Homo sapiens: one gene and its partners. The protein of the gene in region 3 purifies or fractionates together with the protein of the main gene of each other region. This does not show direct contact. Each region holds a gene or a part of one and is shown on either strand. Other genes may lie near its edges. The genes, in order: PDCD2L, PIP4K2A and ARHGAP22.

The links.
Region 1: the proteins of ARHGAP22 (region 3) and PDCD2L purify together in Homo sapiens (affinity purification with mass spectrometry; 2 studies listed by BioGRID and IntAct, with this or other methods). This does not show direct contact.
Region 2: the proteins of ARHGAP22 (region 3) and PIP4K2A purify together in Homo sapiens (affinity purification with mass spectrometry; 2 studies listed by BioGRID and IntAct, with this or other methods). This does not show direct contact.

Annotation. Positions count from the first base shown.
Region 1 is NC_000019.10:34,407,342-34,411,162, forward strand, and holds part of PDCD2L (programmed cell death protein 2-like), read left to right. Parts: intron 1-1,819; coding exon 1,820-2,169; intron 2,170-3,821. UniProt on the Homo sapiens protein: Over-expression suppresses AP1, CREB, NFAT, and NF-kB transcriptional activation, and delays cell cycle progression at S phase.
Region 2 is NC_000010.11:22,712,598-22,716,197, forward strand, and holds the start of PIP4K2A (phosphatidylinositol 5-phosphate 4-kinase type-2 alpha), read right to left. Parts: upstream 1,982-3,600; 5' UTR 1,730-1,981; coding exon 1,586-1,729; intron 1,512-1,585; exon of another isoform or gene 1,339-1,511; intron 596-1,338; exon of another isoform or gene 453-595; intron 1-452. UniProt on the Homo sapiens protein: Catalyzes the phosphorylation of phosphatidylinositol 5-phosphate (PtdIns5P) on the fourth hydroxyl of the myo-inositol ring, to form phosphatidylinositol 4,5-bisphosphate (PtdIns(4,5)P2). Has both ATP- and GTP-dependent kinase activities.
Region 3 is NC_000010.11:48,458,421-48,462,241, forward strand, and holds part of ARHGAP22 (rho GTPase-activating protein 22), read right to left. Parts: intron 1,472-3,821; coding exon 1,264-1,471; intron 1-1,263.

The DNA of each region.
Region 1 (3,821 bases), on a different chromosome or scaffold from region 3:
GTGTAGCCAGGATGGTGTCGATCTCTTTACCTCGTGATCCACCCGCCTTGGCTTCCTGAGGTGCTGGGATTACAGGCGTGAGCCACCACACCTGGCCACTCCAGATTTCTTTAACCACCACTCTACTCTCTACTTCTTTGAGGTTGTTTTAGATTCCACATATAAGTGAATACATGCAGCATTTGTCTTTGTGTCTGGCTTATTTCCCTTAGCAAAATGTTCTCCAGTTCCATCCATGTTGTCACAAATGACAGAATTTCCTTTTTTTTTTTAAGGGTGAAAAATATTCCATTGTATATATAGTAGTTTTTTTAAACTTACACTGAAGGTCTTGAGACACACAGTTTACTGATTTTCCTGTTTGGGAATATATATGGGTGTGTACATATATGTGGTTGTATGTGATAATGTATACGTGTCTTTATAGTAAATATACTTTATGAGAGCTATATATGTATTAACACATTTCATAAGATGAAATCTGAATTTATTGAAAAGGCAGGCAAGTTGGTAGCTGCAGAACACAATTTAGCCTCCCTTTGACTGTAAATGTGTCTTTATATATACACTGAGTTTGTTTGTTTGTTTGTTTGTTTTTTGAGATGGGGTTGCATTCTGGTCACCCAGGCTGGAGTGCAGTGGCATGATCTCTGCCTCTTGGGCCCAAGCCATTCTCCCACGTCAGCCTCCTGAGTAGATGGGATTACAGGCACGTGCCACCATGCCCAGCTGATTTTCATATTTTTTGTATAGATGGGATTTTGTCATGTTGCCCAGGCTGTTCTTGAACTCCTGGACTCAAACAGTCCGCCCACCTCAACCTCCCAAAATGCTGGGATTACAGGCGTGAGACACTGGGCCCGGCCTGCACCCAGTTCTTGATGTTTGCTAGGCATAGTATTAGCAGTACTTAAATAAAAAGTTGAAGACAGTGGTGTTTGCCTATATTTGTCAGGGTTCAGGTGCAGATAATTAGAAAAGTGCTGTTGCTTTTTCTTTTTTTTTTTGAGACCGAGTGTCGCTCTGTCACCCAGGCTGGAGTGCAGTGGTGTGATCTTGGCTCACTGCAACCTCCGCCTCCCGGGTTCAAGCGATTCTCCTGCCTCAGCCTCCTGAGTAGCTGGATTACGGGCACGTGCCACCATGCCTGGCTTTTAAGCTGAGACAGACTTAACACAGGAGTGAGGTTTTTAGTAAGTGGATAGGCTGAAGGAGGAGGCTCCAGGAATGCCCTCCAGAATCACACCTCAGAACTGGCCGTGAAGGAGCTGCTATGCCACCTCTCCTGCTGTCAGGAAGCTTAGGTGTGATCTGGTGAACTAGAGGCTGTCTTTGCCACCGAACCGTTGGCTCCAAAGCCTTGTTCTGTCTGTGTCTACACAATGGCTACCTTTTGCTATGTGGTCTTTCTTTCTACTTCACTCTGTCTCAAGTTCATGTTTCTCTCTAGTAGACCTGATTAGCAGACCCCTAATCATATCTGAAACCCTAGCTGCTAAGGGGTCTGGGAAAGGTAGTTCTTTCTTTTCAGTTCCTGCAATACATGAAGCACAACAGAAAGATATTGGAACGGATGGTTGAATAACCCCTGTACTATATCTGTCACACTCACCCCAAAAAGGAAAGACAAGTATTTTAAGTCACCTCCAACGTGCTTTTGAGTACATAGGGTCTAGAAAGTTTGATTGGAGTGTACCAGAGGGGAAGGGGATGGTGTGAAGGCTCCCTCTGGAAGGCGCGGCGGTGGGTGGCTGGAGCCGAAGGATTAGAATAAACCTCCCAAATGTGCTCGGACCTCATTCACTGAGTATTTTTCCAGAAACAGGGAAACAGCCTTGCAGCTGAGGACTGGTGTGAAGGTGCTGATGACTGGGGAAGTGATACTGAGGAGGGGCCTTCACCACAGTTTACCTTGGATTTTGGGAATGATGCCAGCAGTGCCAAAGACGTAGACTGGACTGCTCGGCTCCAAGACCTCCGCCTGCAGGATGCTGTCCTGGGTGCTGCCCATCCTGTGCCTCCTGGGCTGCCGCTCTTCCTGCCCTACTACATCTGTGTTGCAGATGAGGATGATTACAGGGACTTTGTCAACCTGGATCATGCCCACAGCCTTCTGAGGGACTATCAGCAGAGAGAAGGCATTGCCATGGATCAGTTGCTTTCCCAAAGGTGAGGATGTGTGCTGCTGAGGTTGAGAGGTGACTGGATTGGGAAGCAGCCACAAGAGTTACCCTTCAGTTTCACCACAGGACCTGGGGAAACTTTCAGGCAGAACTTGTATGTAGGACCTTTTTGCTTCACTTCCTTATCAGCCAACTTGAGTTAGCTTGAAAACCCTGCTCTATTTATAATTGCCGTTAAGAAAGTGAAGATGAACAAACAGAAGTTAGAGATGGCAAGTATTTATAGAAGACGCGTTCACTGACTCTTAAATTTTCTTTTATATTTCTAATATGTCTTTATAGCAGAGACAGGCAAGTTAGAAAACTACCATTTGATCTGGGATAATAAGATTGGGGTGAAAAAATGGAAAAAGGAAAAGAAAAACGCCATTTGTTTATTGACTCTTGGCTGTGGCTCCAGAACTGGCCCAGGACCTCAGAGATGCTTTCAGATCCTCAATTCTGTAAAATGAGAGTGATGGTGATATCTCTGTTCTCTGTTTCATCCCATGATTTTTTGAGAGTTAAGCGAGAGGGTAGATCTTGAAAGGCTTTATAAACCAAAGCTCTCTAAAGAGGTAAGAATGATCATTTTTGCTTATTGATTGACTGAGAGAGACAGGGTCTCACTCTGTCACCCACGCTGGAGTGAATTGGTGTGATCAAAGCTCATGCAGCCTTGAACTCCTGGGCTCAGGCAATCTATCTTAGTTTCCCAAGTAGCTGGGAGTACAGGTGCACACCACCATGTCTGACCAATTAAAATTTTTTGAGTTTCGCTGTTGTTACCCAGGCTGGAGTGCAATGGCACGATCTCGGCTCACTGCAACCTCCACCTCTCAGGTTTAAGCAGTTCTCCTACCTCAGCCTCCCAAGTAGCTGGGATTATAGCCATGTGCCACCATGCCCAGCTAATTTTTGTATTTTTAGTAGAGATGGGGTTTCACTATGTTGGTCAGGCTGGTCTCGAACTCCTGACCTCAGGTGATCCACCCACCTCAGCCTCCCAAAGTGCTGGGATTACAGGCGTGAGCCATTGTGCCTGGCCTAAAAATTTGTTTTAGCCACTGCACCCAGCATTTTTTACTATTAGAATAAAAAAATTACAATAGAATATTTGGAGAAATGGCCTGGTTCTTTACCAGAACTGTTTCATTTGTAGGCTTTTTCAGAATAATGATGAAGGGGAATGCATGAAGACATGTTGGTGTTTGAAAATAATCCTTAATAGAATTGATGGTTATAAGGACTTTTTATTTTTTATTTATTTATTTATTTATTTATTTATTTATTTTTGTGTGTGTGTGATATGGGCTCTCTTGCCAGGCTGGAGTGCAGTGGTGCGATCTCGGCTCACTGCAACCTCCCCTTCCTGGGTTCAAGCAATTTTCTTGCCTCAGCCTCCCAAGTAGCTGGGACTACAGGTGCGCGCCACCACACCCAGCTAATTTTTGTATTATTAGTAGAGACGGGGTTTCACCATGTTGACCAGGATAGTCTCAATCTCTTGACCTCGTGATCCACCTGCCTTGGCCTCCCAAAGTGCCGGGATTACAGGTGTGAGCCACCGCGCCCGGCAGGATTTTTTATTTTTTAATTTCTTAAGTTTTTATGTATTTGCTTATTTTTGGTGGGTTTCTTCAGACTAGAGTATTCTTC
Region 2 (3,600 bases), about 26 Mb from region 3:
TATTACTTAGGAAAAATTGCATTTCATTTTCCGTAATAAAACTTGAGAGAGGAGTTTTTGGTGCAGTAATGCATGCTCTTGTAACAACTTACATTCCCAAATAGCTAAAGAAGTTGCCAGGAAGTTAAAATGAACTTCAGTGAGTCAGTCATTAAGCTGGATAAAAATAATCATTTCTCAACTTTTCCAAAAACACTCACTCCATGCAAACACGATCGATCCTGATACTGTTTTGCCCTTCCCCCTGCTCAGCTTGGGGAAGAAAAATACAAAAACGATGCTTTTAGGCATTTTAAACAACTTCACTACATTGAGGGTGTGTGTGTGTGTGTGTGTGTGTGTGTCTGTGTGTGTGTTTTCCGAAAAACCAGCATGGTTTTCTGTCATTTCCATTACGCTGAAAAGGACATACAGACATCCATCGAAATCAAAAGCAGGGAAAGCGAACTTACACTTTTCCCCAGATGCTAAGTGACTGCAGTGGCTAAGGTCATGGTCAAAATTCACAGCTCGTTTAAACTTTCCTGGCTGAGCCAACAGCTCCGATCATGTTTCCTGATCCTATCGAAGTGGATTAAAACTGCAGGAGTTTCTCGCTGTCAGATCAGCAGGAGGCTATTTCAGACCCTCGAACCGCAGTCCGCATAGCCCGCAGCGGCGCATCCTCCAATCCCCGACTGTGCGTGACGCTAACCTTTCCACGCGTTCTCCAGCCTTTCCCACACCCCCCACAGCGGGTGCGGCCAACTCGGGACCCCCTCCGCCCGCGCCCGCCGGGACCCCCGCCTGCTGTCCCCGCCCCGGCCGCCCTTCCGCAGTCGGTGACTTCTGCCTGACTCCCCAAAGTGGGGGGAGGCGACGAAGGGAGGAAGACTCCCCGCCAAGGGCTCTCCAGCCCGCACAGCGGCAGGGCGATGCGGGAGAAGCGCAGGGATGCCGCCCGACGCCAGAGCCATATTTACATCGGCTGCTGCTTTGCCAAAAAGCCGACTTGTGCCCAGTAATATTGCCTTTAAAGGAAAAAGAAAGGACCTAAGCACTAAAGCTGCTGCCCCAAATCTGCTCGCGCTCCGGTATCCTCGCCCCAGTGCCCCAGTGGGAGGCTCGCACGCGCCCAGCCCGGGACAGGTACACCTGCCCGCAAGCGGAAGACGCGGGCGCCGCGCGGCCCCCACACCGGGTAGCGGTCGCCCGGACCCGGCCCCCAGCAGCTCCCGCCGGGGCTGACAGCCGAGGCGCCGTGCCCCGCACAAACTTCCTACCTCCCAGGCTGCGGGGACCGACCTGCGGGCGGGCGGGCGGACCGGGGGCGGCACTGGCACCCACCGTGAGACTCACATGCACACGGGACCCCCGACCCGCACCGGGCCATAGATCTAAAGGGGACGCAAGTGGTGGTGCCTGGGCGGCCCAGAGGGCTGGGGGCACGCGCCGCGGGGCTGGGGGCTTCGAGGCGGGCGAGCAGCCGGAGGTCCAGGGCTGACTCCGGCTCCCCGCCCCGCAGCAGCTGCAGCCGGAGGAGGAGGGGAACGAGGAGGAAGAGGAGGAGGAGGAAGGGGACCGCGCGCCGCAGCTGAGCCCTTACCGAGTGGTTTACCCCCCACATGAGGACGCTGAGCAGCGGGTCGCTGGCCCGAAACAGCTTCACTTTCTGCGCTACGAAGTGCTTCTTCTTGGTCTTGGTCTTGCTCGCCAGGACAGAGGACCCTAGGTTGCCGGGGGTCGCCATGGCCGCCTCCTATGTCCCCTCCACCGCCGTGCTCCCGAGGCCGGGGACCCGCCCTCTCTACACCCCGGCCCGGGGAGGCAGCCGCATCCCCCCGGCGGCGGCCCCGGCGCGCCGCGCTCCGCTCCGCCCGCCGCCGCCGGCGCGCTCAGCCCCACTCGGCTCGCTCCGCCCGCTCGGCCCGGCAGACTGCGCTCGGCTCGCGCCCCGGCCCGTATCCTGCGCCCGCCGCGGATCCGCGCTCAGCCCGCGGCTGGACCCGGCGCGCGGCGAGCGGCTTCCGCGTTGGGCGCCGGCGTCATGACGCAGGGGGCGGGCGGGCAGGCGGGAGGCGGCTGCGGCGCCGCGGGCGGGGCACTGGGTGCGGGGCGCGGGGCGCGGCAGCTGGACCGTTAGGCTGCGCCTTCCCGCCCCGGCTCCGCTGCAGCCGGGCCGCCCCCTGTGCGCGGGCGACCTCCGGGCGTTCGCTCCCTGCCCGCGGAGGAGGCCGTGGGTTGCGAGCGGGAGCCTGGGGACCCCGGCTAGGCGTCCCCTGCCGCTCCCCAAGGAGGGAGAGGACAGAGTGGGCAGAGTGAGGAGGTTGGGGAGAGGAGCCCCCAGGCGTCGATCAGGCGAAGGAGGGAGGCTCATGCACTCACCCACGCCACGAGTCAGGAGACCCAGCCAGGTGTGAAATGCTGCAGGGAGACCAGGGCTTCCCAGCACCGAGGGGAAGGACCCGGGCACATTGCCGGGTCAGTCCCTGAAATGAACTTAATACTTTTGTGCGGATAACCGTCTGGCCTTTCAGACCCTCGATATGGGCCTCCTGGAGCCATTCAAGAGGGAGACTCCCACGTAATAGGCTGGGCTGTCACTGCCAACCCACTCCGTGCCCGGGGCAGGAACCTCGGACCTCATCGAGAGCCCTTGGCTTAACCAGTAGAATCATGCCCCAAAGTGCACCTTCTTCCAATCCATCACTATGGTACTTGCCATCCCTGCCTGTTTTCCAGTGCACTCACCGTCCGTGGAAATCTGTTCACCGTCTTCCTCCAGATACACCTAAATGTAGCCCTTATTATGCTGAGAATACTTGGCCTACCTCAGGAAGCTGCCATTCCAAGTATGTCTAAAACCCTGCTGCCCCCATATCGTCCTTGCAGTCGTCATCCTGTGCTATTTACTCTGACCCAGCTCACCAGTCCTCACGGAGTAGGTTCTTGGAAACTGTCACCTTAAGCAAAACAACATATAACAAAACCAAATTTGCCATAGGCTGACATATAAAAAAAGAGTTAAGTTCCTACAGCATTATTTCCGGTTACAAAAACATCACCGAACTTCAAAGTAAAAATTCAAAACACTTCTAATATTAAACATTAAAATAAATGTGAGCTATACCTCTTTTTTATTTTTATTTTTTCCCTTGAGATAGGGTCTCGCTGTGTCAACCAGGCTGGGGGTGCAGTGGTGCAATCACAGCTCACTGCAGGCTCTACTTCCCCAGACTCAGGTGATTCTCCCACTTCAGACTCCCCAGTAGTTGAGACTACAGGCGCGCACCACCAAGCCTGGATAAACTTCTTGTATTTTTGGTAGAGATGGGGTTTCACCATGCTGCCCAGGTTGGTCTCGAACTCCTGGGCTTAAGGAATCTGCCCACCTTGGCCTCCTAAAGTGCTGGGAATACAGGCACCAGCCACTGCACCTGGCCTACCTACATTTTTTAAAGATTGATAAAAACAAGATAATGGTTTGCCAAATTTCTAGTGATTAAGTGAGCGATGGTTGCTGTGGTGCTGGGTTAAGTCAAGGAATAAGTGTTTGCAAAGCAAAAGTTGCCTGTAGGACCTGCTGCTACCATGAAATTCAAAAACAATCACAAATATGGT
Region 3 (3,821 bases):
GAGAGCAGGTGTGCCCAGGTGGAGACCCCCCCAGCAGGATGGGAGAAGCTTGGCAGTGTGGGTGAGGCGCAGACGGCCTGTGCCACTCCAGGGAGCCCCAGCAGAGTTTGAGTAGGGGAGTGGCAAGGTCTGATCTGTGTCTGCAGAAGCCCCTCAGGTAGCATCAGGCACTAGGGCAGAGCATCTGATCCTGGGGAGCTTCCAAAAGTCTCGGCTCCCAGGCCTTACCCAGGTGACATTATTTGAAGCAATCTGCAACCCTAACGCTGAGACACAGGATGGAAGAGGCCTGGCTGGCTGAGGTTCAGAATGGACGACAAGCTCACTGAGCGTCAACACTGGGATGGAGCTTCACAAAGCTCCAGAGGAAGGGTCCCCCGTACCTCCCTGGGTGGAGCACCGCTAGGGAACAGTGGTCAGTCCTGGACTCCACATCTAAGGAGAGGAGCTGACACCCTCCCCTGGCTGCAGTGACGGGCCTGGGAAAGAGCTGAGGGGCTGAGTGTTCTGCCCCCAGAGGAGAAGCCCTGGGAGGCCAGGGCTGCCTGCAGGTCCTGGTGGGCCCATCCTGGGGCAGATCCAAGAAGACAGGGCATAAGCCCCATGGAGGGTAGTTTTTCCTGATGTAGAGAGAACTCTATGAAAAAACTGCCCCATAATGGGTGGGGGCACTGTCAGGGGAAACAGAATCCCCAAACGGCCCTAGGCTGGGGGTATAGTTGGCTCCACCCAGGGGCATCCAGGGCCTGGGTAAGCCCCCATGATGGGTAGGATGGACATGGCCCCGGCCCCAGAGCAGATGGAGGAGACTCGCTCTCCTGTCCCCAGAACCCAAAAGGAGGGGAGCCGAGCTGCTGTGCCATCTTGCCATTGATAGAGCCTGGGGGTAGGTCACCGGAGGAAGCACGGCCAAGAGACAGACCCCGCAGAAGGCCTGGGGTCCGGATGCAGCTGCGCCTGGTCAGTCCTCACATGGGAGCCAGCAGAGGTCCTTTTCTTCCTGCCTGGGTCAGGTTTATTAGCATGTGCAGGGGAGGCAGGCTGTGTGGATGTGAGCTGGCCTCGTGCATGGCAGGCATCCATCCTGAGAGGGGACCCCGGGCTGGCGGAGTGAGGGTGTGCCCTACACTCTGCCCACTAGGAGGGCTGGCCCACCATCCTGTCGCTAGCCCACCCCTGCCCACTGGAGCTGGTGTCCTGGGCAGGAGCCCCTGCAGGAGGAATGGACAAATGGCTCCACCTTACCCCCGATCACAAGCTCACCTGTCAAACAGTGGCTTCTCCCCACAGTCGAAGGAATCCTGCAGGTCCCTCACCAGGTTGGCCTGGCCTGGCATGCGGAACAGCCCCTCCTCAGTGAGCCCGCGCTCCCGGATGAAGTCCACACACTGCTCCACCAGCAGGGGCGCCAGGCGGGGGCCATACTTCCGCTCGTGGTGGACTGTTTCCTCTAGGCGCTGCCCAAAGATCCCTGAGCACAGAGAGGAGCTAGTCACACCCTCCACCACCCAGCTCAGTGTTGGGTGCTCAGGACAATGGAGGGCAGGCGCACTGTTAGGGCTAAAGGTGGCTCCTCCTCAGGAAGCAAATTACACACTGGGAGGATGCATACCAGAAGGCTGTGCCCTGGCCGCCCGGACACATGCTGGGAGGATGCACACCAGGAGGCTGGGCCCTGGGCTGCCTGTGGACAGACAGCAGGAGGGAGCAGTGAGATGGTGGTGTGACCTGGCCATGGAGCTTGCCCAAGCCAGGAGCAAATGGCCCTTGGGAGCGTTCATTATGCCTGTCATTGATTGGTTTTGCAGTCATTCCAAATGAGAAGCCATCCAGTGCCCATCAACAGCAGATCTCCTGTGTTCTATTCTTACCATGGAACACAGTGCAGCAATGAGAATAAATGAGGCACAGCTCACTGGACAAGACAGATGACATAGTAATGTGAAAACCATAGTCGTGACTCAGCATCAATCATTATTAGGAAAATGCAAATCCAAACCACTATCTGATACCACCTCACACCCACTAGGATGGCTACTATCAAAAGATCAGATAGTAACAAGTGTTGGCAAGGATGTGGAGAAACTGGAACCCTTCCTTGTGCACTGCTGGCAGGATGATAAGATGGTGTAGTTGCTGTGGAAAACAGTATGGCAGTTCCTCAAAAAATTAAAACCAGAATTACCAATAATCCCTCCCCTGGGTATATACCTAAAAGAATTAAAAGCAAGGTCTCAAAGAGATACTTGCACACCCATGTTCACAGCAGCATTATTCACAGTAGCTGAAATGCGGAAGCAAGCCATGTGTCCATCAATGAATGGAGTACCAAGACGTGGTATTTGCATACAGTAGAACTTGATTCAGCCTTAAGCCTGAATTCCCTTAAAAAGGAGGGAAATTCAGACAAGTGATAAAATATGGGTGAACCTGAGAACATTATGTGAAGTAAATCATTCACAAAAGGACAAATACTGTGTTATTCCCCTTATATGAAGAACCTGGAGTATTCAAATTCACAGACAGAAAGTAGAATGGTGGCTGCAAGGAGCTGGGGACAGGGGAGATGGCAAGTTAGAATTGAATGGGCACAGAGTCTCAGCTTTGCAAGATGGAAAGTGTTCTGGAGATGGATAGTGCTGATGGTTGCACGATAATTGAAATGAATGTAATGCTGCTGAACTGTGTGCTTTAAAAATGAAGACAGGAAATTTTATGCTAAGTGTATTTTATGAAATGTTTTAAAAATTAGAAGACAAAAAAAATCATCAGAAACAAAAGAAGCCAAACCCCAGAGTGCACACTGCATGACTCCATGTATGTAAAGTTAAAAACAGGTCAAACGCATCTGTGCTGTTAGGCCGGGACATGGTTCCCTTGGTGGGTCAGTGACTGGAAGGGGCTCAAAGGCTTCTGGGGTCCTGGTAACACTGTGTCTCTCCCCCAGCACTGCTTACCCAGTTATGTTCCTCTTGAGAAAATTCACTGAACTGTACACTTATGACTTGTATGCTTTTCTGCATGTTACTCTTAAATAACATTAGCAAAAAGAAAGAAAAGAAATCAGAGAGAGAATGATCTAAAACAATACATGACAAGACACCAAATGAGGAATAGAGGGAGAGAGGAAGGAGGCAGAGGAACTTCTGAGAAAATCTATGAAAACTAAATATATCACTAGGCTAAGAGGTTCCTGGCAGCCCAGGCAAAGAAGGGAAGGAGTTGAGATCCATAAAGCTGTCTACACCACGGCACAGTAACTGGAGAAACAGACTTGTGCCAGCCCCTAAGCTCTACAAGGTGCGTGCCTGACTCTTTGGAGTGTCTGACATTATTCACACCCACTGTGCAGAGACCTTCCCTGCAGGGTGGCTTGTGGGGTGTTCCAGGGGCAAGATGCCAAAGCTCCATGTCCAGGCTTGGGACTTCTCAGAGACCTGGGCACTGAGCCAGCTAAAAGTGGGGCTCCATTTGTCTTACTTAGCTTCCCACCCAGGGGCTATTTTGGAATAAGATACATCGGTCCCTGATACAGTGCCTGGCACAGAGCAGAACACAGTAAATGCTCCTCCTCACCCTGCTTGACCCAAAAACAAAGTGTATAAAACCTGAAAGGTGAAGACTCTTCCTTTGAGAACACATGCCCGCGTGGGCTACACCTGCTGGATACCAGCAATGCTTTAGGGAGAAGTGTGTACGCACATGTGTGCATGTAGTGTGGGCTTGTGTGTGCATGTGTGTGCACATGTGCTGGATGTGCGCTTATAAACGTATGTGCATATGTGTGCTTGTGGGCTTGTGTGTGCATGGGTATGCACACT